Linked DNA regions of Homo sapiens: all the other regions are linked to region 3. Evidence: fine-mapped expression QTL. A gene starts in region 3. Each other region holds a variant in brackets. All regions are shown on one strand. Distances are between the middles of the regions.

Region 1 (8,126 bases), 81 kb before region 3:
TCTATTGAGGTATGTGTTTTTTGTCATTGGTTTTGTTTATGTGATGAATTACGTTTATCGATTTGTGTATGTTGAACCAGCCTTGCATTCCAGCAATGAAGCCACTTGATTGTGATGGATAAGCTTTTTGATGTGCTGCTGGATTCGGTTTGCCAGTATTTTATTGTGGATTTTCTCATAGATGTTCATCAGGGATATTGGCCTGAAATTTTCTTTTTTTGTTGTGTCTCTTCCAGGTTTTGGTATCAGGATGATGCTGGCCTCATTTTATGAGTTAGGAAGGATTCCCTCTTTTTCTATTGTTTGGAACAGTTTCAGAAGGAATGGTACCAGCTCCTCTTTGTACCTCTGGTAGAATTTGGCTGTGAATCTGTCTGGTCCTGGACTTTTTTTGGTTGGTAAGCTATTAATTATTGCCTCAATTTCAGAACCTGTTATTGGTCTGTTCAGGGGTTCTACTTCTTCCTGGCTTAGACTTGGGAGGATGTATGTGTCCAGGAATTTATCCATTTCTTCTAGATTTTCTAGTTTATTTGCGTAGAGGTGTTTAAAATATTCTCTGACGGTAGTTTGTGTTTCTACAGGATCAGTGGTGATATCCTCTATATCATTTTTTATTGAATCTATTTGATTCTTCTCTCTTTTCTTCTTTATTAGTCTGGCTAGCAGTCTATCTATTTTGATGATTTTTTCAAAAAACCAGTTCACGGATTCATTGATTTTTTGAAGGGTTTTTTGTGTCTCTATCTCCTTCAGTTCTGCTCTGATGTTAGTTATTTCATGTCTTCTGCTAGCTTTTGAATTTGTTTGCTGTTGCTTCTCTAGTTCTTTCAATTTTGATGTTAGGGTATCAATTTTAGATCTTTCCTGCTTTCTCTTGTGGGCATTTAGAGCTATAATTTTCCATCTAAAGACTACTTTAAATGTGTCCCTGAGATTCTGGTATGATGTATCTTCGTTCTCATTGGTTTCAAAGAACATCTTTATTTCTGCCTTTATTTTGTTATTTATCCAGTAGTCATTCAGGAGCAGGTTGTTCAGTTTCCATGTATTTTGTGCAGTTTTGAGTGAGTTTATTAATCCTGAGTTCTAATTTGATTGCACTGTGGTCTGAGAGACTGTTATAATTTCCATTCTTTTGCACTTGGTCAGGAGTGTTTTACTTCCAATTATGTGGTCAATTTTAGAATAAGTGTGATGAGGTGCTGAGAAGAATGTATATTCTGTTGATTTGAGGTGGAGAGTTCTGTGGAGGTCTATTAGGTCTGCTTGGTTTAGAGCTGAGTTCAAGTCCTGAATATCCTTGTTATTTTTCTATCTCGTTGATCTGTCTAATATTGACACTGGGGTGTTAAATTCTCCCACTTTTATTGTGTGGGAGTCTAAGTCACTTTGTAGGCCTCTAAGCATGTACTTTATGAATCTGGGTGCGCTTGTATTGGGTGCATACATATTTAGGATAGTCAGTACTTCTTGTGCATTGTTCCCTTTACCATTAATGTAATGCCCTTCTTTGTCTCTTTTTATCTTTGTTGGTTTAAAGTCTGTTTTATCAGAGATTCGGATTACAACTCCTGCTTTTTTTGCTTTCCATTTGCTTGGTAAATATTCCTCCATCCCTTTACTTTGAGCCTATATGTGTCTTTGCAAGTGAGATGGGTCTCCTGAATACAGCACACTGATGGGTCTTGACTCTTTACCCAATTTGCCAGTCTATGTCTTTTAACTGGGGCATTTAGCTTGTTTACATTTAAGGTTAATACTGTTAGTTGTGAATTTGATCCTGTCATTATGATGTTAGCTGGTTGTTTTGCCCATTAGTTAATGCAGTTTCTTCATAGTGTCGATGTTCTTTACAATTTGGTATGTTTTTGCAGTGGCTGGTACTGGTTGTTCCTTTTCATATTTAGTGCTTCTTTCAAGAGCTCTCGTAAGGCAGGTCTGGTGGTGACAAATTCCCTCAGCATTTGCTTGTCTGTAAAGGATTTTATTTCTCCTTCACTTATGAAGCTTAGTTTGGCTGGATATGAAATTCTGGGTTGAAAATTCTTTTCTTTAAGAATGTTGAATATTGGCCCCCACTCTCTTCTGGCTTGTAGGGTTTCTGCAAAGATATCTGCTGTTAGTCTGAATGGGCTTCTCTTTGTGGGTAACCCAACCTTTCTCTCTGGCTGCCCTTAACATTTTTTTGTTCATTTCAACCTTGGTGAATCTAATGATTATGTGTCTTGGGGTTGCTCTTCTCGAGGAGCATCTTTGTGGTGTTCTCTGTATTTCCTGAATTTGAATGTTGGTCTGTTTTGCTAGTTTGGGGAAGTTCTCCTGGATAATATCCTGAAGAGTGTTTTCCGACTTGGTCCCATTCTCCCCGTCACTTTCAGGTACACCAATCAAACGCAGATTTGTCTTTTCACATAATCCCATATTTCTTGGAGGCTTTGTTCATTTCTTTTTATTCTTTTTTCTCTAATCTGGTCTTCTCTTTTTATTTCATTAAGTTGATCTTCAGTCACTGACATCCTTTCTTCTACTTGATTGATTTGACTATTGATAGTTGTGTATTCTTCACAAAGTTCTTGTGCTATGCTTTTCAGCTCCATCAGGTCATTCATGTTCTTCTCTGCATTGGTTATTCTAGTTAGCAATTTGACTTCAGCTTTTTTTCATGTGTTTGTTGGGTGCATGAATGTCTTCTTTTGAGAAGGGTCTGTCCATGTCCTTTGACCACTTTTTAATGAGGTTGTTTTTTCTTGTAAATTTAAGTCCCTTGTAGATTCCAGATATTAAACCTTTGTGAAATGGATAGATTGCAAAAATTTTCTCTCATTCTGTAGGTTGTCTGTTCACTCTGATGATAGTTCATTTTGCTGTACAGAAGCTCTTTAGTTTAATTAGATCCAATCTGGCAATTTTTGTTTTTGTTGTAATTGCTTTTCACATTTTGTTCACAAAATTGTTGCCCATGCCTATGTCCTGAATGCTATTGACTAGATTTTCTACTAGGGTTTTTATAGTTTTGGGTTTTACATTTAAGTCTTTAATTCATCTTAAGTTAATTTTTGTATACGGTATAAGGAAGGGGTCCCGTGTCAATTTTCTCCATGTGGCTATCAGTTCTCCCAGCTATATGTGCAATTATTAAGGTATACAACTAGTATTTATTCTAGTACCACTTTATTTTATTTCACTCTCCTTGCAACATATTTTTCCTTGAAAAGGATTAGATCAGGTAAATTGAATAAAACATTTTAGGGTGTCAAGGATAAGCTTTTTAAAAAGTTGATGCCTATAAACAAGAACTTTTTCAAAATGTGAGTGTACTATGTGTGTTTATGTATATATGTATATGTACACAAATATACACGGGTGTATGTATGTGCATGTGTGTGTGTACAGGTTGAATATTCCTTACAGAAATGCTTGTGACAAGCAGTGTTTTGGATTTCAATTTTTTTTTTGATTTTGAAATATCTGTAGATACGTATTTGTGGAGCATACCCAATTCAAAAATCCAATAAACATAAACCAGTGGTTGAAAATGCTACAACGACCATTTCCTTTGAGCTTCATGTCTGTGCTCAAAAAGTTTTGGAGTTTGGAGTAATTTGGGTTTCAGATTTTTGGATTAGGGATACCACACCTGTGTAGACACTCACATACACATACACAATCTCTCCAGCTAAGAAAAATGAGTGAAACATAAAATCCCAGGTTTTTTTCCATAAATTTTCAACACCAGCCATTTCAAATATTACTATCACTTCCTATGGAATTGTTACTAATCATGTGCCATGTGACTTTTTTGTGGCTATTGCTATTAGGGCAATAGAGTATAGAGGGAACAGAATGGAGATTAAAAACAAACAAACAAACAAACAGGGTTTGCATCCTCAATTTCCATTCCAAATTAGGAGAAACAACTTAATCTCATGGAACCTTAGCTTGCCTATCTGGAAAAGAGCAACAAATTTACCTACTTGACATACTTGCTGTGAAGATTAAAAATAATGTATAAGGAACCAGTCTGCCACCTGGCACATAATGGTATATTCTCCATAAGTGTTTGTTATCCATGCTGCATGTTAGTTACTTATAATCATGGTCCTAAGGATTTACAATATACTAAAATACTTCCTAAAAAATTAAAGAAGTATTAATTATGCAGCAAGATCTTTAAGGCTCATATCCTTCCAACAAGTAATTCTATTTCTAGGAAACTAGCCAGAGGAAAAGATTAGAGATATCATCAAATATTTA[C/T]GTATAAAGATATTCTTCAAAGTTTTAATTTTAATATCAAAACACTGAAAACAACCTAAGTATCCAAATACCATACTACATCTATACAATTGCTGTTAAATATTAAAGAATCTATTAAAATATTAATGAGGACTTAACAGCAGCCAGAAATGCTCACAAAAATTATATTTAAACAACAGCCTATAGACCTACATCTCAACCATTACATTCATGTGTAGCAGTGTACACACATGCACATACAAATGCAGAAAAAAATGATTTGGAGGAAATGCATCAAAACATTAACAATGACTATCTTCAGGTGATGGGAATTCAGTATTTTTTTACTTCATTTTTAATGGTTTTTTATTTCCAATTTTCTACTATATACATGGATTACTTGGATACTTAGGAGACATAAAATTTTAAAATCCAATCACTTCTGTATATTATTTAGTATATTCTAGTTTTTTAAGGGTGATCTTTTTAACCATACCCCATCTTACTTCCAAAAAGATTTGAGATACCTAACAAAAATATATATACCAGACTAAAATAAATAAAATAAAGAAATTGAGACAAAAATAAGAAAAGAACTTGCAAACTCTTTCTCTTTATATATGTATATATATGCAAACATGTATATACATACATATGTCAAAGAACTGTTTCAGATACAAAGAACTGAAGGAAATTTCTCCAGCCTTCTCAGAAAGGGTATACTAGAGGTATGGCAGACATTGTTTTAATTTGTACAACAGGAGTGCTATTGGCTGGGCACAGTGGCTCATGCCTATAATCCCAGCACTTTGGGAGGCCGAGGTGGGTAGATCATCTGAGGTCAGGAGTTTGAGACCAGCCTGACCAATATGGTGAAACCCTGTCTCTACTAAAAATACAAAAATTAGCTGGGCATGGTGGCATGTGCCTGTAGTCCCAGCTACTCGGGAGGCTGAGGTTGCAGTAACTCGAGATCATGCCACTGCACTCCAGCTTGGACAACAGAACTAGACTCTGTCTCAAAAAAAAAAAAAAAAAGTGCTATTGAAGTAAATTAAGTGAATCACAATTTGTGATTAGAAAGAGAGAAGGCAGACTAAAAGTCAATTAGCCAAGATCTGTAACAGTATGACTGAGCCTGAGCATGATCAGCAACTCAAAGAACACCTCCTAAAAATCCACAAAGAAAAGACAAATAGAGATTTAGACAGATTTTCCCTTATATTTTGTCACCTTTACTCAAGTGCCTTCAAAGAAAAAAAATGGAAATACTAAAAGTATACTTTATTTTCTATACATAAAGTACATCAAGAAAATAAACATTGCTCTCCTATTAACAAAATGTACTGAATATAGTGTATTCAACATACCTTCACTGACAGCATGGGGTTTAACAATGCAACAGGTACAATTAGTAAATTTAGCAGTGTTTGCCGGCCCACAACCTCCACTTGAAGGAAAAAACAACTCCATTTCCTAAAGACAGAGAGAAATGATTTTGACAAATGTGATCTCTTATCTTGAACTTACAAGATATTTCTGTGGGGGAGGAGAATCATGCAATTACTTTTAGAGTTTCATCATATAAATTTTTTGTTTCAGATTTTCTAAAAATGAGTTTTACAAAGACACACTGATTAAATTAACCCTGTTTCAAGACTTAGAACCAGAAGAGCATATAAAGAAGTATCAATCAAAGCAATGAGAATATGTGTCATTTTGTTCCAGGAATATAGTGGACAAAGATTTAATAAATTTTGAATATTGGAAATACCAATATAAAGTTCTTATTCTCCCCAAAGCATTAGTTAATTAGACACAAATTTAATTTTAAATTTTTCATTAAAATATGTAAAATAAAATTTAAAACTAGGAAATTTTATAGGAACAGAGATTAATATCAGGAATCTGAGAACTACAGCTACTTAAAACTAACTATAGGCCTAGTATAAAATAAAATCAAATGAACCATGTTTTATAAACAGATTCAGGCTGTGTTATTCACTTTGCATGTGGTTCACTAAAATGACAACACAACAATTTGAACTAGCCACAAAGATGTTCACACTAATCAGTTCTTTTAATTATTTAGATGCTTTCCTGTCTCTAAGCTTTCACTGCTATTATTTCTACTATTTCCTATAAAACCCTCTGACTCAAGCTCCAAAGAATCTTACCAATGTGTAAAGAGCCACCTCAAATACCACTTTCCACTAGGAGGCATTTCCTGATGCCTCCTTCCGGCAACCTTTGTTCCCCCAAAGTTATGGTTATTTGGGTACTTATCTTCCATCAAATCATAAATTTGAAAAAGAGGGAACTAAGTTGTATAGCTCTGTAGGACCCCTAGCACCTAAAACAATGTCTGGCTCAATGCAAATAGCCCTTGGTATACACAAGGGATTGGTACTCAAATCCCTGTGTGTACTCAAATCCATGCATGCTCAAGTCCTGCAGTCAGCCCTGTGGAACCTGCTTATAGGAAAAGTCAAATCTCTGTAGATGTGAGTTTCACCTCTTGCAAATACTGCATTTTCAATCCTTCTGTTGAAAAAAATCCACATATAAGTAGACTCGTGCAGTTCAAACCTGTGTTGTTTATGGATCAACTGTATTTATTTTTCATTAAATTTAAAATGAAAAGATTATAGAATGTGTTAATGTGCCACACTGATGAGCATTTTTTTAAACACAAGGATGATGAGGAATTATTCAAATAGTAGTGTATACACCTGAGCATTTCCAGTGGTAAGACACTAGAATAAAAAGTGTTCTATTCCTAAGATACCAACTGCCTTTCTATCATATTGCTGCCATTATTTATTATTCTTTTTAATCAATAACAACAGCAACTACCCCTTTTAGTCCTATACCAGATGCTTTGATTGCATGGTCCGAGAGAACCTTTATGGTACAGATGAAAATTCAAATACCTACAGGGACCTGGCAGATGATCAATGAAGGAATGAAGTAGAAGTGGTGTGACAAGAGAATATGATAGAGTAGCAAACTAGAAAGGGCATGCTCTTTCGAGAGTTCCCATTGGTCTGTTCCCTTCACAACAAAATTCAAAAGAAATGTCTTTCTTTTCCATTTCCATTTTTACTTCCTCTCCTACAGTCTCTTTTAAATCCACAACCAATTAGGTTTTCATTCCACCAAAGCTGCTCATTAAAATCCCTTACTACCTCCATGTTGCTAAGTCCACTGGTTAATTATTCTCAGCCCTCACCTTACCTGACCAACAGTATTTGACACAGTTTGTCACATCCTACACTCTGGAATGCTTTCATTACTTGCCTTTCTTCCTACCTCACTGGCTACTCCCTCTCAGTCTCCTTCGATGGTTTTCTCCTATCTAGCTGACCTCTATGTGTTGGAGAGCACCAGGGCTTAGTCCATCTTTATTACTTGTTCACTAGCAGTTTCTCAATGAATATTTGGGAATGACTGAAATTCAGCACCTAATAAATTCTGCATGTGCTAAACAAAATAAATATATCCACAGTGTACAAATGAGAAAAATGAGACTCAGAAAGCTTAAGTAACAAGCCCTTACAAGTTAGCAAGTGGCAAAGCCAGGATTCAAATCCAAGTGACTGTAGCTCCAAAAACCATGTACTTTTTCTATTATCTGTCTTTCCAAAGTAAAAAGCAGTGATAAATTGTTCTGTCTCTAGTTTAACAAATTATTTAACAATTAATTGACCAATTATTTTTGTCTCAACTTTCCTTTGATTTCTTTTCTCGCTCAATTTTTAAAAATAAAAATGCCAGCTTTCCAACTACCCAGATTTTCAAGTACCATATTTACCTATGCTGAATAAATATTTATTTATAAAGCATAAAGATTTTACATAAATATATCTTCTTAGTGAAACGTGAATAAG
Region 2 (8,126 bases), 31 kb before region 3:
ACCTAAGAATTAACAAAAGAAATGAAGATCTCTACAATGAAAACTATGAAACACTGATGAAATAATTTGAAAAAGACCAAAAAAAAAATGGGAAGCTATTCCATGTTCATGGAATTGGAAGAATTAACATTGTTAAAATGTCCACACTACCTAAAGCAATCTACAGATTCAATGCAATCCCTATCAAAATACCAATGTCGTTCTTCAAAGAATAGAAATAGAAAAAACAATTCTAGAATTTATATGGAACCACAAAAAACTCAGAATAGCCAAAACCATCCTAAGCAAAAAGAACAAAACTGAAAAAATCACATTAACTGACTTCAAATTATACTACAGAGCTATAGTAACCCAAACATCATGGTACTGACATAAAAACAGACACATAGACCAATGGAACAGAATAGAGAACCCAGAAAAAATCCACACACCTACAGCGAACCCATTTTCAACAAAAGTGCAAACAAGATACACTGGGGAAAAGACAGCCTCTTTAATAAATGGTGCTGGGAAAACTAGATGTCTATATGCAGAAGAATGAAACTAGACCCCCTATCTCCAGCCATATACAAAAATAAAATAAAAATGGATTAAAGTCTTAAATCTAAGACCTCAAACTATGAAACTACTACAAGAAAACATGGGAGAAAATCTCTAGGACATTGGTCTGGGCAAAAATTTCTTGAGCAATGCCCCACAAACATAGGCAATCAAAGCAAAAACGGACAAACAGGATCATATCAAGTTAAAAACCTTCTGCACAGCAAATAAAACAATCAACAAAGTGAAGAGACAACCCACAGAATGGGAGAAAATATTTGCAAACTACCAATCTGACAAGGGATTAATAACCAGAACACCTAAGGAACTCAAACAACTCTACAGGAAGAAATCTAATAATCCAGCTACAAAATGGGCAAAAGATCTGAATAGATATTTCTTAAAAGAAGACATACAAATGGAAAATAAGCATATGAAAAGGTGTTCAACATCACTGATCATCAGAGAAATGTCATCAAAACTACAATGAGATATCATCTTATCCCAGTTAAAATGGCTCTTATCCAAAAGACAGGCAATAAAAAATGCTGGTGAGGATGTGGAGAACAGGGGACCCTTGTACACTGTTGTTAGGAATGTAAATTAAAACAACCACTATGGAGAACAGTTTGAAGGTTTCTCACAGAACTAAAAATGATCCAGCAATCCCACTGCAGGGTATATACCCAAATAAAAGGGAATCAGTATATTGAAGAGATATCTGCACTCCTATGTTTGTTGCAGCACTGTTTACAATAGCTAAGATTTGAAAGCAACCTAAATGTCCATCAACAGATGAATAAAGAAAATGTGGTACATATACACAATGAAGTACCATTAAGCCATAAAAAAGAATGAGATCCAGTCATTTGCAACAACAGGGATGGAACTGGAGATCATTATGTTAAGTGAAATAAGCTAGGCAAAGAAAGACAAACATCACATGTTCTCACTTATCTGTGGGTTCTAAAAAATGAAAAAAAATTGAACTCATGGACATGGAGAGTAGAAAGATGGTTATCAGAAGTTGGGAAGAGTAGTGGGAGGCTGTAGGGAAGGTGGGGGTGAATAACAGGTACAAAAAAAATAAAATTAAAAAGAATGACTAAGACCTAATATTTGATAGCAGAGTAGGGTGACTGTAGCCAATAATAACTTAATTGTACATTTTAAAATAACTTAAAGAGTGTAACTGCATTGTTTGTAACAAAAGGATATCAAAAGGATAAATGTATCAAAAGGATAAATGCTTGAGGGGACAGAGCACATTCACCATGATATGCTTATTTCACATTGCATGCCTGTATCAAACTATCTCATGAACCCCATAAATATATATATCTACTATGTACCCATAAACATTTAATATTTTAAAAAAAAAGAAATTTGCCAAGATCACACAGCTTATAAACAGAGGTGAACCCAGGCAGCTTGACTCCAGATCTGCTCTTAGACACTCTCCTTAACTGTGGCAAGAAGGGATGGAAACTCCCTTCTGAGAGACACTGGACTAAGCAGCCTATATAAGCTGCAGTGTTTGCTCGATTTCTAGAAATAGCAACTATATTCTTTCAATTTAACCCCCTATTAAGACAAATCAGGTTTTAAAAACCAACACAACCACAACAATAAAAATCAGGACATACTTATCAGACTTGTAATTCTAACAGTGCACTGAAAAAAATGTACATTGCATTTTTGTAATGCTGTATTTTAGGAAAAATTACTTCACAATAGGCAGCAAAATATTTTTGTTCATACAAAAGTGCTCCCTTCTTTAAATCATACTAAATGGATTCCATAATGCATGATGGAGAAATATCTTAAACTAACTAGAAGTCTTATTTTCATGATTTGCATGTTGAAGGGTCAGTAACTAGTCAATCTATTTCAAGCCAAGTATCTGCTTCTGTTTGACTTCAAAGACATTCTGGAGTAAATTATGTAGATGATAAAGGTTACAGTTCAACAAGCTTCTAAAGTTTAGTCTGAGTCTCCATGAACCCACATTCACCTTGAATGACATTATAATAGAAATCAACAGCATGAGTAATCAAAACAGCATGGTATGGGTAGCAAAACAGACACATACACCAATGGAGCAGAATAGAGACCTCACAAATAATACCACACATCTACAACCATCTCATCTTTGACAAACCTGACAAAAACAAGCAATGGGGAAAGGATCTCCTATTCAGTAAATGGTGCTGGGCAAACTGACTAGCCATATGCAGAAAAATGAAACTGGAACGCTTCCTTACACTTTATAGAAAAATTAACTCAAGATGGATTAAAGACTTAAATGTAAAACCCAAAACCATAAAAACCCTGGAGGAAAACCTACACAATACCATTCAGGACATAGGAATGGGCAAAGACTTCATGACAAAAAGGCCGAATGCGATTGCAACAAAAGCAAAAATTGACAATAGGATCTAATTAATTAAACTAAAGAGCTTCTGCACAGCAAAAGAAACTATCATCAGAGTGAACAGGCAACCTATAGAATGGGAGAAAATTTTTGCAATCTACCCATCTGAAAAGGTCTAATATCCAGAATTTACAAGGAACTTAAACATATTTATAAGAAAAAAACAAACAACCCCATCCAAAAGTGGGCAAAGGATATGAACAGACACTTCTCAAAAGAAGACATTTATGTGGCCAACAAACATGAAAAAAAGCTCAACATCACTAATCATCAGAGAAATGCAAATCCAAACCACAATGAGATACCATCTCACACCAGTTAGAATGACGATTAAAAAGTAGGAAACAAGGTGCTGGCGAGGCTGTGGAGAAATAGGAATGCTTTTACGTTGTTGGTGGGAATGTAAATTAGTTCAGCCATTGTGGAAGACAGTATGGTGATTCCTCAAGGATTTAGAACCAGAAATACCATTTGACCCAGTAATCCCATTACTGGGTATATACCCAAAGGAATATAAATTATTCTACTATAAAGACACATGCACACATATGTTTTCTGCAGCACTATTTACAATAGCAAAGACATGGAACCAACCCAAATGCCCATCAATGATAGACTGGATAAAGAAAATGTGGTACATATACACCATGGAATACTATGCAGCCATAACAAGGAATGAGATCATGTCCTTTGCAGGGACATGGATGAAGCTGGAAGCCATCATCTTCAGCAAACTAGCACACGAACAGAAAACCAAATACTACACATTCTCACTCATAAGTGGGAGGTGAACAATGAGAACACATAGAGAGGGGAACAACACATACCAGGGCCTGTTGTGGGGTGGGGGATGAGGGAAGGGAACTTAGGGGACGAGTCAATAGGTGCAGCAAATCACCATGGCACATGTGTACCTATGTAACAAACCTGCACGTTCTGCACATGTATCCTGATTTTTTTAGAAGAAATATATATAATATATATGTTTATATATTTTATATATATTAAATAAATAATATATATTTAATATATACTTTTATATATTAAATATATATTTATATATATGTTTCAGAAGAGATATATATATATACATATATATAGAAAGAAATCAACACCATCTAAGAACCTGCTCCCTCAAGCCAGCTGCTTCCAGTAAGGGTGAGTGAAAAGTGGCTTCTAAACAAGGAAATTTTCACTTTGCCTTGAACATTCTGAGAACATAGTGTGTCCGGAATTGGTGGGTTCTTGGTCTCACCGACTTCAAGAATGAAGCCGTGGACCCTCGCAGTGAGTGTTACAGCTCTTAAGGTGGCGCATCCGGAGTCTGTCCCTTCTGATGTTCAGATGTGTTCGGAGTTTCTTCCTTCTGGTGGGTTCGTGGTCTCGCTGGCTCAGGAGTGAAGCTGCAGACCTTTGCGGTGAGTGTTACAGCTCTTAAGACAGCGCGTCCGGAGTTGTTCGTTCCTCCCGGTGGGCTCGTGGTCTCGCTGGGCTCAGGAGTGAAGCTGCAGATCTTC[A/G]CGGTGAGTGTTACAGCTCATAAAAGCAGCATGGACCCAAAGAGTGAGCAGTAGCAAGATTTATTGCAAAGAGCGAAAGAACAAAGCTTCCACAGTGTGGAAGGGGACCTTCCCTTCCACAGCTAGCTCAGGCAGCCTGCTTTTATTCTCTTATCTGGCCCCACCCACATCCTGCTGATTGGTAGAGCCGAGTGGCCTGTTTTGTCAGGGCACTGATTGGTGTGTTTACAATCCCTGAGCTAGATACAAAGGTTCTTCACGTCCCCATCAGATTAGTTAGATACAGAGTTTGGACACACAGGTTCTCCAAGTCCCCACCAGAGCAGCTAGATACAGAGTGTCGATTGGTGCATTCACAAACCTTGAGCTAAACACAGGGTGCTGATTGGTGTGTTTACAAACCTTGAGCTAGATACAGAGTGCCGACTGGTGTATTTACAATCCCTTAGCTAGACATAAAGGTTCTCCAAGGCCCCACAAGAGCAGCTAGATACAGAGTGTCCATTGGTGCAATCGCAAACCTTAAGCTAAACACTGGGTGCTGATTGGTGTATTTAAATCCCTGAGCTAGACATAAAGATTCTCCAAGGCCCCACCAGAGCAGCTAGATACAGAGTGTCGATTGGTGCACTCACAAACCTTGAGCTAGACACAGGGTGCTGATTGGTGTGTTTACAAACCTTGAGCTAGATACAGAGTGCCGATTGGTGTATTTACAATCCCTGAGCTAGACATAAAGGTCCTCCAAGGCCCCACCAGACTCAGGAACCCAGCTGGCTTCACCCAGTGGATCCCGCACCGGGGCTGCAGGTGGAGCTGCCTGCCAGTCCCAGTGCCGTGTGCCCGCACTCCTCAGCCCTTGGGTGGTCGATGGGACTGGGCGCCATGGAGCAGGGGGCGGCGCTTGTAGGGGAGGCTCGGGCTGCACAGGAACCCACGGAGTGGGTGGGAGGCTCAGGCATGGCGGGCTGCAGGTCCCGAGCCGTGCCCCGTGGGAAGGCAGCTAAGGCACGCGGTGAGAAATCGAGCGCAGCGCCGGTGGGCTGGCACTGCTGGGGGACCCAGTACACCCTCCGCAGCTGCTGGCCCGGGTGCTAAGTCCCTCATTGCCCAGGGCCAGCAGGGCTGGCCGACTGCTCCCAGTGCAGGGCCCGCCAAGCCCACGCCCACCCGGAACTCCAGCTGGCCCGCAAGCGCCGCACACAGCCCTGGTTCCCGCTCACGCCTCTCCCTCCACACCTCCCTGCAAGCTGAGGGAGTGGGCTCTGGCCTTGGCCAGCCCAGAAAGGAGCTCCCACAGCGCAGCGGTGGGCTGAAGGGCTCCTCAAGTGCCGCCAAAGTGGGAGCCCATGCAGAGGAGGTGCCAAGAGCGACTGAGGACTGTGAGGACTGCCAGCATGCTGTCACCTCTCAATAGCAGATCATTAAAAATGTATTATCTACACAGTAGGCAAACAAGCATAGTAATTCACATTGCTTTACTTAGATGTCACAGTGATAAGTACAATAGAAATAAAAACACAAGGAAAAGGTTTATATTATCCCATTGTCAGAGGCTAGATTTTAAGCACTAACTTGTTTTGTACCTATCCTTTATCAAATAGTCTTCCTCCAGGGCTTCCTTCAAAGACCAAGAAATTTTCTTACATTGAATAGTGTCAAATATTAACCTTACTTTAGTGTGACCATAACCAGTTTTGAGCCTGTCCAGGTTGTTCACAGAGACCTATTCCTTCTTCATAAATCTATCTTGTAAAGACAGACAGAAGGCAAACTCAAGTAAAAAGGGTCTTCACGTGTGAAGAATCTAATTTGTCAACTCCAACTTAGCATTTCTCATTAATAAAGGAAAACAAATTATAACAGAAGGAAAAGTTAGGTGAATCATTAAATTTAGTTAGCTATCCTATTTCACTTAAATTCTTTAAACACTAAGTATACCATTGCAATCACTTTTTGCTTTTAAAAAATTACAGTTTAAAATTTCTTTTGAAAAAATATTTTCAACAGAATTCCACATATTTCCAAGATTGTGTTTTTTAATGTTACTTCAAGACAATATCTCAGAAATAGAATGCATTGTTTTTGTGTTTACAGAAAAAAGTCAGTGATGCAATGAACAGAACACAAACACCTGTATTTCCCCAACTGTGATGTTTAAGATGCACTTTCAACTTAACTCCTGCTAAATTTTGTTAGTGAAAAATGCCAGAAAAGAACCATTTCCACAGTATGAATATATAGCAGGAAGCTGGTCAAACAAGATGGAATCGTTTAAAAAGGCACACATCCAGTTTCAGGGGAGAAACAGCTTTTTAAACTTCTTCACCTTGGGCCCCATAATCTTGAAAATTTTTGCTCTCTGACTTCTGCAGATCACTGCCCAGTGAAAAAACAATGCCACACACCATCTATCAAGGGAAACCTCTCTAAAAAGGTTGAACTTTCCTTTAGACATCTCAAAGAAAACACAGTTATTATGAAGTCTTCCCAGACCAACCCCAGCCAATGTATATTTCTGTTACTTGGAATTTGATTTTCACAGAATTTCAGAGATCAAAGGAACATTAACAATGAGGAAACAGAAGGTCAGATAAGTTAAATGACTTGGCAAAAATGATGTTGACTTGTTAAGTGGCATAGTTTAACAAGGACCCTTGTTTCTTCACGGGCAGACTGATGTTCCCACAGTAGAACACTGGGTTGTCGTCTAATTTTGTATTATACAATACAAATTGTCTCTCTAATAAAATTATGAAATTCTCAAAGAAGCTGTAACATTTATTTCTCTTGAAACTTCAAGGTGGCTCTCCTAGTTCTGGGACCATAAAATACTCAAATAAATATTTACCAAAATAAAGATCTAAAGGAGTAAATAAATGTGCACAGCAATAGATCTTGACAAAATGGCAAAAATCCACTCTTCCATATTCAAAAAACTCCCCCCCAAACTCTAATATTTGTTTGTAAGTCTGTTTACTTATATTTCCAGAAAGATTCTCAAAGAGGACATCTTTTCTTACTTTTTTGGTAAGTATGGGCTTCTCTGACTACCATCTTAAAAGAATATACTTGATAAAGTATTAAGTAACTCCAGGACATGAGTTACCCATGAGAGATCACTTGCCAACAATTAACTGAACCACAATATTCCAAAAAGAGAGATGGCTCTTAATCAATAAATAAATTCTGGGTCTAATTATAATGGCATGAAAATATTTAAGCAATTATAAACTACTCAATGTTCAGATAGAAAATTGACTTTATTATTGAGCTAGAAATCAAATGATAACACAGAAAATAACAATATAAATGCTAACCTTGAGTTTTTCCAAAAAAGCAACTGTTGTCAAGGTCACAAACACACTGAGCCAAGTCTTGTTATTCCTTTATCCCATAGCTATTGTACTACTTGGTCTGAAAGTGGATGTGCTAGACATTTTCCATTTGTCATTTTCCATTTGTCTCTCCAGACCTTCACTCTGCTCTTCTCCATCCTGTTCTAAGCCTGGTCAGCTGACCTCCATGAACTTCATCAAAGGACCCCCTTGCCCTTGGACTTTTACATGGGTTTGGCCAGTAGAAGCCAGTGGCTACAAATCAAAGGAAGAACAGAGAGGCCAAGATATTTATTC
Region 3 (4,530 bases):
TATAATTTCTTACTATTCAGAAGTCATGTAGCCAGAGGTCACAAGATTTGTAACTTCACCAATTGCTCCTTTAGATAACATCACTATTGTAAAACCTAAGATTGGTCTTGAGATATTTTCCAGGCTTCTGCATTCTGGCAAACCTCCTGATGCCACCCAGATACATGCCTCATACCAAGAAACTGACTCTACTAGTCCTATGACTCTCACCTAGACAACTGACTCAGCACAGGAAGACAGTTTGGAAACACCTATAAATTCATCCCCAACCAATCAGCAGCGCCCATTCCCTACCAACCTGCCCACAAAATTATCCTTGAAAACCACAACTTCCAAGCTGTCAGGGAGGCGGATTTTAGAAATATTTCCCATCCTTCCACTCAACTGCCTTGCCTCCATTAAACTCTTTCTCTGCTGCAACTCCTGCATTCTCAATGTTTGGCCTTTCTGGGAAGTGGGCAAGAAGAACACGTTGGCCTGTAATAGGAGAATAAATAAGTTTGGCAAGCAACAAGAGGGTGCAAGTATTCTGTGTAGAAGGAATTGCAAGTGCAAAGTAGAAAGAGGAGGCATACTACCAGTTTGAAGTTGCTTGGTATGTTCAATGAAAAGCAAGTAGCTAAAAGGCAAGAGAATTTTTTTTTTTTAAGTATGGAAAGGGAAAGGCAAAAGCTAGACAGAAAAGTGCTTGTTCATGGAGGAACTTGTGTGCCATTCTAGACATTTTACTGTAGGAAATAGGGAATCTAGAGTTTTAAGGAGGTGAGTAAATCAACAGGTTGGGTTTTTAAAAATTCCTTCTTGTGGCAGAGAAAATAATGGATTGGAGAATTTCCAGACCAGACTGTAAAAGTCACTATTAAAATAATCACGAAATGAGGAGATGACAAACTAAAATTTGATCTAGTGAACAACTGAATATGGGAGAAATAGAAGAGGGAGGAATGTAGGATAACTCTGATTTCTAGTTTAGGTTATAATATAGTAGTAGCATTATTTAACTTGGTGAAAATAGGAGAAACCAGGAGGAAAGATAGCAAGTTCAGTTTTGGTCATATTAAGTTTGAAGGACATTTGAGACAGATGTGTCCGGGAAGCAACTGAGTTAGGCATTAGTAGATCTGAGAGGAAAATTGAAATTTAGAAGCAAAATCAAAGGTGTTAGTAGAATCCATGTGAGTGGACAAAATCACCCAAGGAAAATGTCTAGACTAAGAAATGAAAGTAATCAAGGAGTTAATTCCAAAGAATGACATTCAAAAACCAGGCACAGCCAGTAAAAGGAATTAATGACTATGAACCTCAGTTGTCACAAAGAGACTAAGTAATGTAAATTTTGAGAAGTAATTACTGTATTTGGTATTTAAAAGGCCATTAGAAACTTAAGCAAGAACAACTTTCTTGAAGCCATTAAAGAAGCCAGACAGAAGACTTTTGTCTGTTTGATATAAGTAAAAATAATATCCTTTCAAGAAGTTTACTGATAGATAGGAGGACTAGGAAATAACTGGATAAACACAGGATGGAGGACATGGTTTTGCTTTATTTAATTTTCATAAGATGTGTGACTTGAGCACTGAAGAGAAGAAACTGGAGAGGAAAAGGCTGAACGCACAGGAAAGAAAAAAACAACTGGAAGCGAAATGTAACAGATGGAAGCAAATGAGATCAAGAGCAAAGATGGATGGATTATCCTTTAATATCCCTTTCTCTACACTAGAAATACAAGACTAAAGGCTCGGCAAAAATATAGAGCAATGTGTAGGTTGGGGGCATGAGGTTGAAGAAATGGCCTGTTATACTCCATCATGTTTAGAAAGGAGAAATGAAGAGGGCAAAAGACAGGGTTTGTAAAGGGAAGGTTTGAAAATGTCTTCACAGAGAATGGGTCAGGGGAAAACTGGGGTAACCAAAAGGATTGCTGAGTAGTATGAAGAAACAAGGGGTGGTGGGTGAGGGCTCTGTTTCTAAATTCATAGCTATAACTATCTAAAGATCTTTCTATCCTCCAGTCCGTTATCCATAAGTGCTTAAAAGATATGGTAGTTAAGTGAATTAACTAGAACCCTCTCAAACATAGGGGTGAATTAAAATAACCTATAGGCTTATTTAAAATGCAAATACCGAGCTCCATTCCTTTCATTCAGAATTTCCAGGGGTGAAGCCCAAACAGTGAATTCCAGAAGCTCTCCAAGCAATCCCAGGAGAAATTTCTGTTTAAAAAAAAAAGAAGAAGAAAGAAAAGAAAAGAGAAAAGAAAAGCAAGCACAGACCTAGAAGGTAACCAACTGGATAGAAGAGCGCTGATCCAACATACACCTGTTAATGGCCCTCGTGGGGGCGTGGGGCAGTGCTCTGCCACTCAGAAAAGCAAAAAGACTCCAAGATCTAGGGAGATTCAGATCAGTGTTGAGACAGTCACATACACACCACCCCATACTCTTAATAAAGCGCGTTAATGTGAATCTGTGAACATGAAAAATGCCATGATGAACAATGCAAACACATAATGTTTGTTCAAAACAGGTTATTAGACTCGATGCCTTACCCTAAATTTTCTGTTTCATTACTCTAGAGACTTAGTAACATTAGTGGAATTCAGGGTGCTGTAAGAAATACGGAGAGCGAGGAGACTGCAGGAACAGCCCGTGGGAAGGGGGAAAGAGATAACGGGGAGAAGGTCGGGAGGACCGGACAACTTTAAGTGCCCATCCGCCCGAAGACTTGGAAAGCTAAGTAAGTAGGACCCCAGAGCCGTTCTTCTGGCATCCCCTGGCACTCACCATTGTCTCAGGATCTCAGCACTAGAAAATAGGTATCGTTGAGACAGGAAGACACCACCACCACCACCATCATACGGTTACTCAGGCAACAAAGCCCCGCCCACTGTCGCACGAGGCGTGGGACGCCACCGCCCCACCTCTTCGTCCTTAGTGGCTGGGAGTAATCTCAGCTGCGTTCATCCAATCGACAGACCCGCCCCTCCACGCTGTCGCCTGGGGCTACGAGACGCCATTATTCTGTTTCCGGCAGTTTTACTTCCGTTTGTTTAACAGCTGGCCCGGAAGTTTAAGTGAATATGCGGCTTGGGCTCCAAAAGTTGCTGTACGGTATTTTATTTTAAAGTAGAAATCTGTCCGCTTTTCACTTACGGAGGCCTTACAGTGTGTGTTCTGTGTTACTTGAGTTTATACGCACTGCAGAATTTGTTTACCCTGCTCTTTTGGAAACGTATTCCGGAAGCGAAACCCTGAGTAATCGGAAGTGGTTAGGAGTGAGAGAGCTGCTGGATATGCGGAGGGACTGGGCGGGTCGGCTTCCGAATGGAAGAGGTCTGTGAGAAGTTAACCTGGTGATACCGATCCGAAGAGCCTATCAAGTGAAGCCCCCTGAAATACGGAGAATAAGAATCTTAGAGGTAAATCCGAGGACAAGCAGGTATAACTAAGGATGTTGGAAAGGGACGGAGGTCTGGCTGGAGCTCGGTGGCCAGTAGCTTTGGATTTAGGGAAAGATTGTTCCGGGAAGACTTTTTCAGACAGGGATGAAACTTAGGTTTCGACTTCCCCGGACAGCAAAGTTGACAGGCTTGTCGCTTCCCGGCCTATCGCTTTCATACCTGCTCACTCCCCCTACTTACTTCTTCACCCCCTCCGCTTCATTTGGCATTTGCCAGCAGGCACTCGCTGTGCCTGTACGTTTCGCAGAGCAGCTATCAAGGGCAGTTTCAGGGATCGTTACTCTTACGAAGGGTTTTTTGGATACCTCTTTTCGGAGCAGTAGAGTGTAAGTGTAGAAAAGTTTGTGACTGTTAAGAAAGTTAGTCGTCGGGTTCACTAATTGAACTGAGTTGTATCTAGTACTGAGAACGATCTTTTTTTGTAGTGAAACCAGTTGTCATCTAGTGTACAGTTTGTCATATTTATATCATTGCAGTAGCATCACCTTCTTATATGTTCTCTGGTAAATCTGAGTCTGTACTGTAAGACAATGTATACATTTCTGAAAGCATGGGCTCGATATGTTTCTCTTTTTACTTTTGGAGCTACACTATTTTAATTTTAACTTTTTATTACCAAAAAAGTATAAATTATGTTATCTTGAGTAATATTTTTTGTCGTTTGTTAAACATCTAAACAGAAGCTCCTTTTTGATATGTGTGTGTGTGTATACAAATTGTGTCGGTATGTCTCCTAAGAAAGTAATTACTTTAAAATTCCTCTTGTCATATGGATGACAAAACCACCACAGTAACTTCATTCCCTTTGCTTGGCTAAAATTCAGGACATACTTCTGACAATTTAGAGTGTATTGGTGAGGATGGTGAAACGGAGTATTTAGAAGTAAACCACCCCTAATTTTTTTTTTTGAGACTTTTAGTAGACATAACAATGCCTTCTGTGAGAATGGGATATAAGGGACATTTCTCTTTCTAAATGCATGCGTACTAAATACAGAAGCAATTAAAATATCATAACTTTTAAATTGGAGGTACTCTATGTGTTTATATGATATTTTTAAAATTATTTC
Region 4 (6,350 bases), 52 kb before region 3:
ATTCACACAGCTGTATTCAGCTAGTGGGCCAGCTGGGGGCTGTGCTCAGCTGAGACAACTAGGCTTTTCTTTCCTGTGGTCCTTAAGGAGGCTAGAGCAGGCCTCTTCAAATACCACCACACATCAACCAATGTACAGGCAATTATCAAGTGTCCCCTTGAGTCATTTTTGCTGACATATCTTTGGCCAATGCAAGTCACGTGGTCAAGCTCAGAGTCACTGTGAGAGAAAACCACAAGGTATGATTCATTGAGAGCCATCAGTGTAACAATCTACCACTTAGTAATCCTCTTGCCTGCACTGAGGCAAGCACTGTAAGATGCAGCGTGAGATATTCTCAAAAGAAAACAAAACATTATAAAAACCACTATTTAAGATTAAAACTTCTTAGCAATACACGGTAACTACTTCTTGTGAAAAAACAGTATGGCCAGCCTTCACGAACCCAGAATATAGATTTCCAGAAAATAACAATTCTCACAGAGCTATGCAATAAATGTCTTCATATACCATCAGGTTCTGAGCAAAAATTGCAGCAAATATATTTCTGAGAAAGATGACTGATTGCAGTACAATAAATGTCCCAGACAGTATAGTGCTATTGCTATGTAATAAAGTCTTAGATAGTACAGTGCTATTAAACATCTTAGATAGTGCAGTGCTATGGACTCTTTAAATGCCATTGACCAAAAAGAATAAATATGTAAACTTTAATCTATATGGGATTCATATTTGTCTTAAGTAAATATTCTATTCTAAACCTATTCTAAAAGTAAACCTATTCTAAACATCAAGGCTAAATTTTTGGTTTTTCTCATACTTTGTTTACAAGCATAAAGTGTATATCTGCCCCATGGATAAAGGAAAACTGTCTCAAATGAGGCACCTGTAATTTGGTGGAAAATTCAGTGATCAAGACTTTTGCTTGGCAACAATAGCAAAATTATTCAGAACAATTCTTCCACCAAAAACTAAAAAAGTTGATATTTTTAAAAAATCTTTTAAAAATTAAAGATAAATTGACTAGATCATAAATAATTACTGGGACAAAAGTGAAAAAAAAAAAAAAACAACCAAAGAATGAAAAGTAAGAATGAAAGTTGTTTTTGACTTGACAGCATTGCCTATCTGGAAAATCTGAACTTTGATTTGCAGTACATCATTGGGAAAGGGTAACAGAACCCAAGAGATGATCCTTCCTAAAATAATTTGGACCCAAAGGCTATACCACCCCCGCTTAAGGTGAATCAGAAACAACCAGGTCTTGAATGGCAATACAAGTTCACATCATCTAAGCAGTCTCAAAACTTAGAATTTTTGAACTACCAATCATACAGACTGCTAATGCCTATGGGAAAAAGACAGAAGCAAAGACAATTAATTCCCTCCTAGTAGGAAAGTAATGTCATCCTGTACCTCAAATAATTCATATGAAAATGCATATCTCACATATATTATTTACATATATGCAATACACCCACACATACACACATGGCAATCATATAGAAAGATAATCACACAGACACATACACACATACAGGGAAAAGGCCAACATGAGGGAAAACCAGGAGAAACAACAGAAAAGAGAGAGACCCACAAATACTTCAGATACTAGGATAATCAGAGAAAAACTGTAAAGTATCTGTGCAAACTATGGTTAAAGGACTAAAAGACAAGCTACAAAACATTATCAGGTAATAGAAAACTGTAAGCTACAAAATGGAATAAGCAGATCTGAAAAAGAATATATTAGAATATCTTGTGATGAAAATACAATAATGAAAATGAGAACTAGATAAAGGGTTTGACAGAAGAAAGCAGATTCAGAATGAAGCACAGAGAAACAAAAAGATACAACAGAGATAAGAAAATAGTTTCATGAATGTAAGTGAAATAAAGACATTTTCAGATGAGTGCAAAC[T/TGAAA]GAGTTTTCTATTAGTAAACACACTCAAAAGGAAAATATTTTTTAAAAATGTAATTTAAGCAAAGGTAAAATAATCCCAAACAGAATGTTTGAGATAAAAGAAAGGATAAAAAGCAAAAAGTGAAGAAACCTAAATGAATACTCATTACATAAAACAATAATAGTAAATCATTAGGTTCATGGAAAAAAAACAAAAAAAAATACACAACAAAAACAGCATATAATTCAGCAAAAATCCCAACAAAAATTGAGCTAAAGTCTTCTGAGATTCTTAGATTTTAAAGAAGGAGGTTAAAATATTAATTAGATTTAAGCTTTATCAAGTTAAGTACATATGTTGTAGTTTCTAGTGTAAATACTAACTGTATATAGAAAAAAAATAGATGAAAAAAATCCTCAAGCAATCCGAACAATCAAAAATAAGATAATAAAACAGGCAGGAGAAGAAAGCTCAGGATAAGATGTCAGAGTTAAAGCCAAGTATATTAGTAGTTACGTTACAAATAAGTGCTCTACAGTAGATGCAGATTATAAAACTGTATTTATAAAAAAATTTTTTTAAAAAGATAATCTGATTGGATTTTAAAGCCTAGATGATAGGTTGAAAGGTGCAGCAAACCACCATGGCACATGTATACCTATGTAATAAACCTGTACATTCTGCACACGTATCCCGGAACTTAAAGAAAAAAAAAGATATAAAAAACAAACAAACAAAAACAAAAACTAATGAAAGGCACACATAGAAGAGAATACTGAAAATCTAAAGTAAAAAGAATGGAAAAGGTATACCATGCGAATGTTAACTAAAAGAAAGCCAGTGCAGCTATAGTAATATCAGAGAAAGTACAGTTTAAAGTAAAAGGCATTGCTAGAGATGAAGATGGTCTCTTCATAGTAATAAAAGATTCAATTTACCAAGAAGATATAACAATTTAAATCACCTAGTAACATACCCTTAAAATTATAATATAAAGACTAACATAACTACAAGAAGAAATAGACAAATGATAATTACATTAGAAAATTTTAATAAAACCTTGGCAATTGATAGAATAAGCTGCCCAAAAATTAGTAAATATGTGAAAGATTTGAACATCACAATTCACAGACTTCACCTAATGAATAAATATATAAAACTATACAAAACAACTGCAGACTAAACATTCCTTTCTTTTCTTTCTTTCTTTTTTTTTTTTCTTTTTTTTTGAGATGGAGTCTCGCTGTGTCACCCAGGCTGGAGTGCAGTGGTGCCATCTCAGCTCACTACAACCTCCACCTCCCGGGTTCAAGCAATTCTCCCACTCAGCCTCCCAAGCAGCTGGGACTATAGGCACACGCCTCCACGGCCGGCTAATTTTTGTAATTTTTTAGTAGAGACAAGGTTTCACCACATTGGCCAGGCTGGTCTCCAACTCCTGACCTCAACTGATCCACCCGCCTCAGCCTCCCAAAGTGCTGGGATTACAAGCGTGAGCCACCACACCTGGCCTAAACATTCTTTTCTAACACACATAGATCATTAATAATTGACTATTCTAAGCCAGAGGCAAATCTTAACCAGTTTGAAAGGCAAAAATCATGAAGAATATGTCCTCTAGACACATGCAATTCAGCTAGATTCCAATACAAAAAGAGAAAAACAAATCTCCGTATGTTTGGAAATAAACATAATTCTAAATAAATAATAAACCAAAGAAGACAACACAAAGAAAGTAAAAAATGTTTCAAACTGAATAAAAATTACATATCAAAAATAATAGGATATAGTTATAAGCAGTTAGAAGGAAATTTATACCCTTAATTGCATATATTAAAAATATTAAAAATTGATAGAATATATAATTCTGTAACTACTAATAGCAGAAAAGGGGAATAAAGAAAATTGGTCAATAACCATCAACTTAGAATTGTGTGTCTAGCAATAGTATCATTAAAGAAAGAGGGTAAAATAAAAAACGTGCAGATTAAAAAGAAACGGGTAGTTTACAATGAAGAAATGAAGAATAACAAGAAGAGAAAATATTCTAAAAGGACAGGTTGATATGCAAGAAAAATTGGTGAACAAATGTTTAGGTAAATCTAAGCAAATGTTGTTTCTATCAAAATAAATAAATAAATAAATAAAAGAATGTCTAACATGCAGGCAAAAAAACTGAATGTCCAAAAACAACAATAATAACAAAACTATGTAAGATTTAAGAGAGAAGATTAGAGCTAAAGTGTCCTAATCTTGTTGTATGAGTTGGGAGAGAGCCATATTATTATAGAACTGTAAGTTAAATATATGAAAAAATTTCAAGCCTAACCAATAAAGAACAAGTATAAAAATCACATAACCTCTAAAGCAACAGAGAATATAGTAGGCAGAATAACACTACCCCTCAAAAATGTCCACATTATAATCTCCAGAACGTATAAATATATTACCTCACCTGCCAAAAAGGACTTTGCAGATGTGATTAAGATTACAGGCCTTGAGATAGTAGAGATTATTCTGGATTATTCCCCTGGGCCCAATCTCATCACATGAGTCCCTAAAGTCAGAGAATCTTTCCTAGCTTTAGAGAACCAGAGAGATGTCAGTGTGAGGAGGACTCAAGCCTGCTATTGGTGGCTTTGAAGATGGAGAAAGGTGGCCCCAAACCAAGGAATGTGGATGGCTTCAAGATGTTGGAATGTGCAAGGAAATTGATTCTTTCCTAGAGCCTCAAGAGAAATGCAGTCTTATCAACACCTGATCTTTACCTGATGAGATCTGATTGGACTTCTGACAGAACTGTAAGATCATAAATTTGTATTGTTTAAGTGACTAACTTGGTAGTAATTTGTTATAACTTCAATAGAAAACCATATAATAGAAAAAAAAAACTGAAGAGAGGAAGAAAAATTTCTTCAACTAATCCAAAGAAAAGGCAAGAAGAAAAAAATAGAAAAACAGGAAAACAGTAAAATAGAAACATATACAAAAATAACAATAATCACAGCATATTTCAATGTACATGTATTAACTTTACCAATGAAAATATAACCATTCCAGATTAAATTGAAAAAAAACCTATATGTTATTTACAAGAGACATATCTAAAGCATAACAGGGCAAGTATAAAAGAGATGGCAAAAAGATATTAATTAACCCAAATACGCTATCAATCAAACCCTTTCTAAGGAAAGATGGCTCAAGCTGGAGCTGAAAAGGAAATTCAACTCTAATCTGTTAACTGACCAAGGACCATATGACTGAGAATTGTAGAATGGAAAGGCAGAATTCTTATTTTACAGAAAAAAATATCAATTTCTCCCTGGGAATTTAATAATGAGAAGGCATTCTTCATTGTATTATTTGGGAGGCAGTTACACTGTTGTTGGGTCTATCGTATAATCAATAGCATGCCATCTTAGACAACGATACTATAGATAAGTAAAGATGAGAAAAAGATTGGGGGTGAGTTTTTAGCAAGGCCTCTGTTACTGAACTAAGGTATTCCTCTAAGGCATTAGGGTGCCCTTCTGCAGCCAAAACTCAACTGCTCACCACTGGTCCTAGGACAATATACAAAGCAACAGTAATTGGTATTGAGGGAAAGGTTTCCCAAAGGTGAGAGCAAGACTAAACTAATATTCATCTGGTCTGTTCCCCGAGAAGTAGCCATAGTCTACTAGAGCATGGCAGCCAATTGGCTTAAAGGTATAAAACCCAGAAAACAACTAGGAATGTGTACTCTTGCTCCTCATGAGTAAAGTAACTTCTATCCCTGTTCCCATAAGAAAGTGCTCTCTCTCTCTACTTCTTCCATTTGCTTCTCCATGTCCGGCCATATTTAAGGGTTTCTGGTTATTTGTGGCCCGACCTCTTTTTTCTCAGACCTGCAGACCCTCAAGTAGGGGATAGTGTACAAGTAAGGGATAGCGTATTGTTCTCCTGCTTTCACATGTTAAGCACATTGGAATCAGAGTCCGGCACCTGCAGTGGAAGCCTGTTTCTCTCTAGTGCTCTCTCTCCTGTGCTCCATGGGCTGGGAGGCAGGATGAGAACCCTGGGCAAGTATGCCCTTAGTTTGTTCTGTAGATCCAACTTTTCCTCAGGCAGGCCTCAAGTTCCAGATCAGTGTAAGGGATAGAGGAAATAGGAATAGAAAGAAAGCCTCAACCATTCTCAAACACGCTTTCACAAGACAGCCTAAGTAAAATTAATACTTAATATTTTGATCTACATCTATCTCCTGTGTTAGTTCTTCATCAGTTAGTAATTTGGAGGGAAGAATGGAGACTAACTGAGCTCAAGAGATGACAAGAAGCTGTTTTAAGGAGGAATGTAAAAGATAAAAAAGAGAAGAGAAATAAGAGAGATCTATGAAGGAGACAAGTAAATTGGTAAGATTAGGTCCCCATGTGGATTTAGGGATAAAATACATATGGAACTCAAGGA

What was found. PIP is the estimated chance that this variant, and not a neighbour inherited with it, causes the effect.
Region 1: its variant is fine-mapped to the expression of NME7 in subcutaneous fat (GTEx, PIP above 0.99).
Region 2: its variant is fine-mapped to the expression of NME7 in whole blood (TOPMed, PIP 0.96).
Region 4: its variant is fine-mapped to the expression of NME7 in tibial artery (GTEx, PIP 0.94).

The regions. Positions count from the first base shown.
Region 1 is chr1:169,281,697-169,289,822 of GRCh38, forward strand. It overlaps NME7 (NME/NM23 family member 7), which reads right to left. Exons shown (of 12, transcript NM_013330.5): 7 at 5,607-5,712. Among named protein-coding and RNA genes, the nearest start is that of NME7, 82 kb to the right of the region's middle. The variant C/T (reference allele first, on the strand shown) is at 4,258.
Region 2 is chr1:169,331,739-169,339,864 of GRCh38, forward strand. All of the region lies in intron 1 of NME7 (NME/NM23 family member 7), which reads right to left. Among named protein-coding and RNA genes, the nearest start is that of NME7, 32 kb to the right of the region's middle. The variant A/G (reference allele first, on the strand shown) is at 4,492.
Region 3 is chr1:169,364,925-169,369,454 of GRCh38, forward strand. It overlaps NME7 (NME/NM23 family member 7), which reads right to left and starts at 2,873. Exons shown (of 12, transcript NM_013330.5): 1 at 2,784-2,873. The coding sequence starts at 2,786. BLZF1 (basic leucine zipper nuclear factor 1) reads left to right here and starts at 3,271. Exons shown (of 7, transcript NM_001320973.2): 1 at 3,271-3,418. RefSeq lists enhancers at 2,710-3,909, 2,849-3,350, 3,013-3,092, 3,351-3,850.
Region 4 is chr1:169,312,153-169,318,502 of GRCh38, forward strand. The region is part of intron 3 of NME7 (NME/NM23 family member 7); the gene reads right to left. Among named protein-coding and RNA genes, the nearest start is that of NME7, 52 kb to the right of the region's middle. The variant T/TGAAA (reference allele first, on the strand shown) is at 1,922.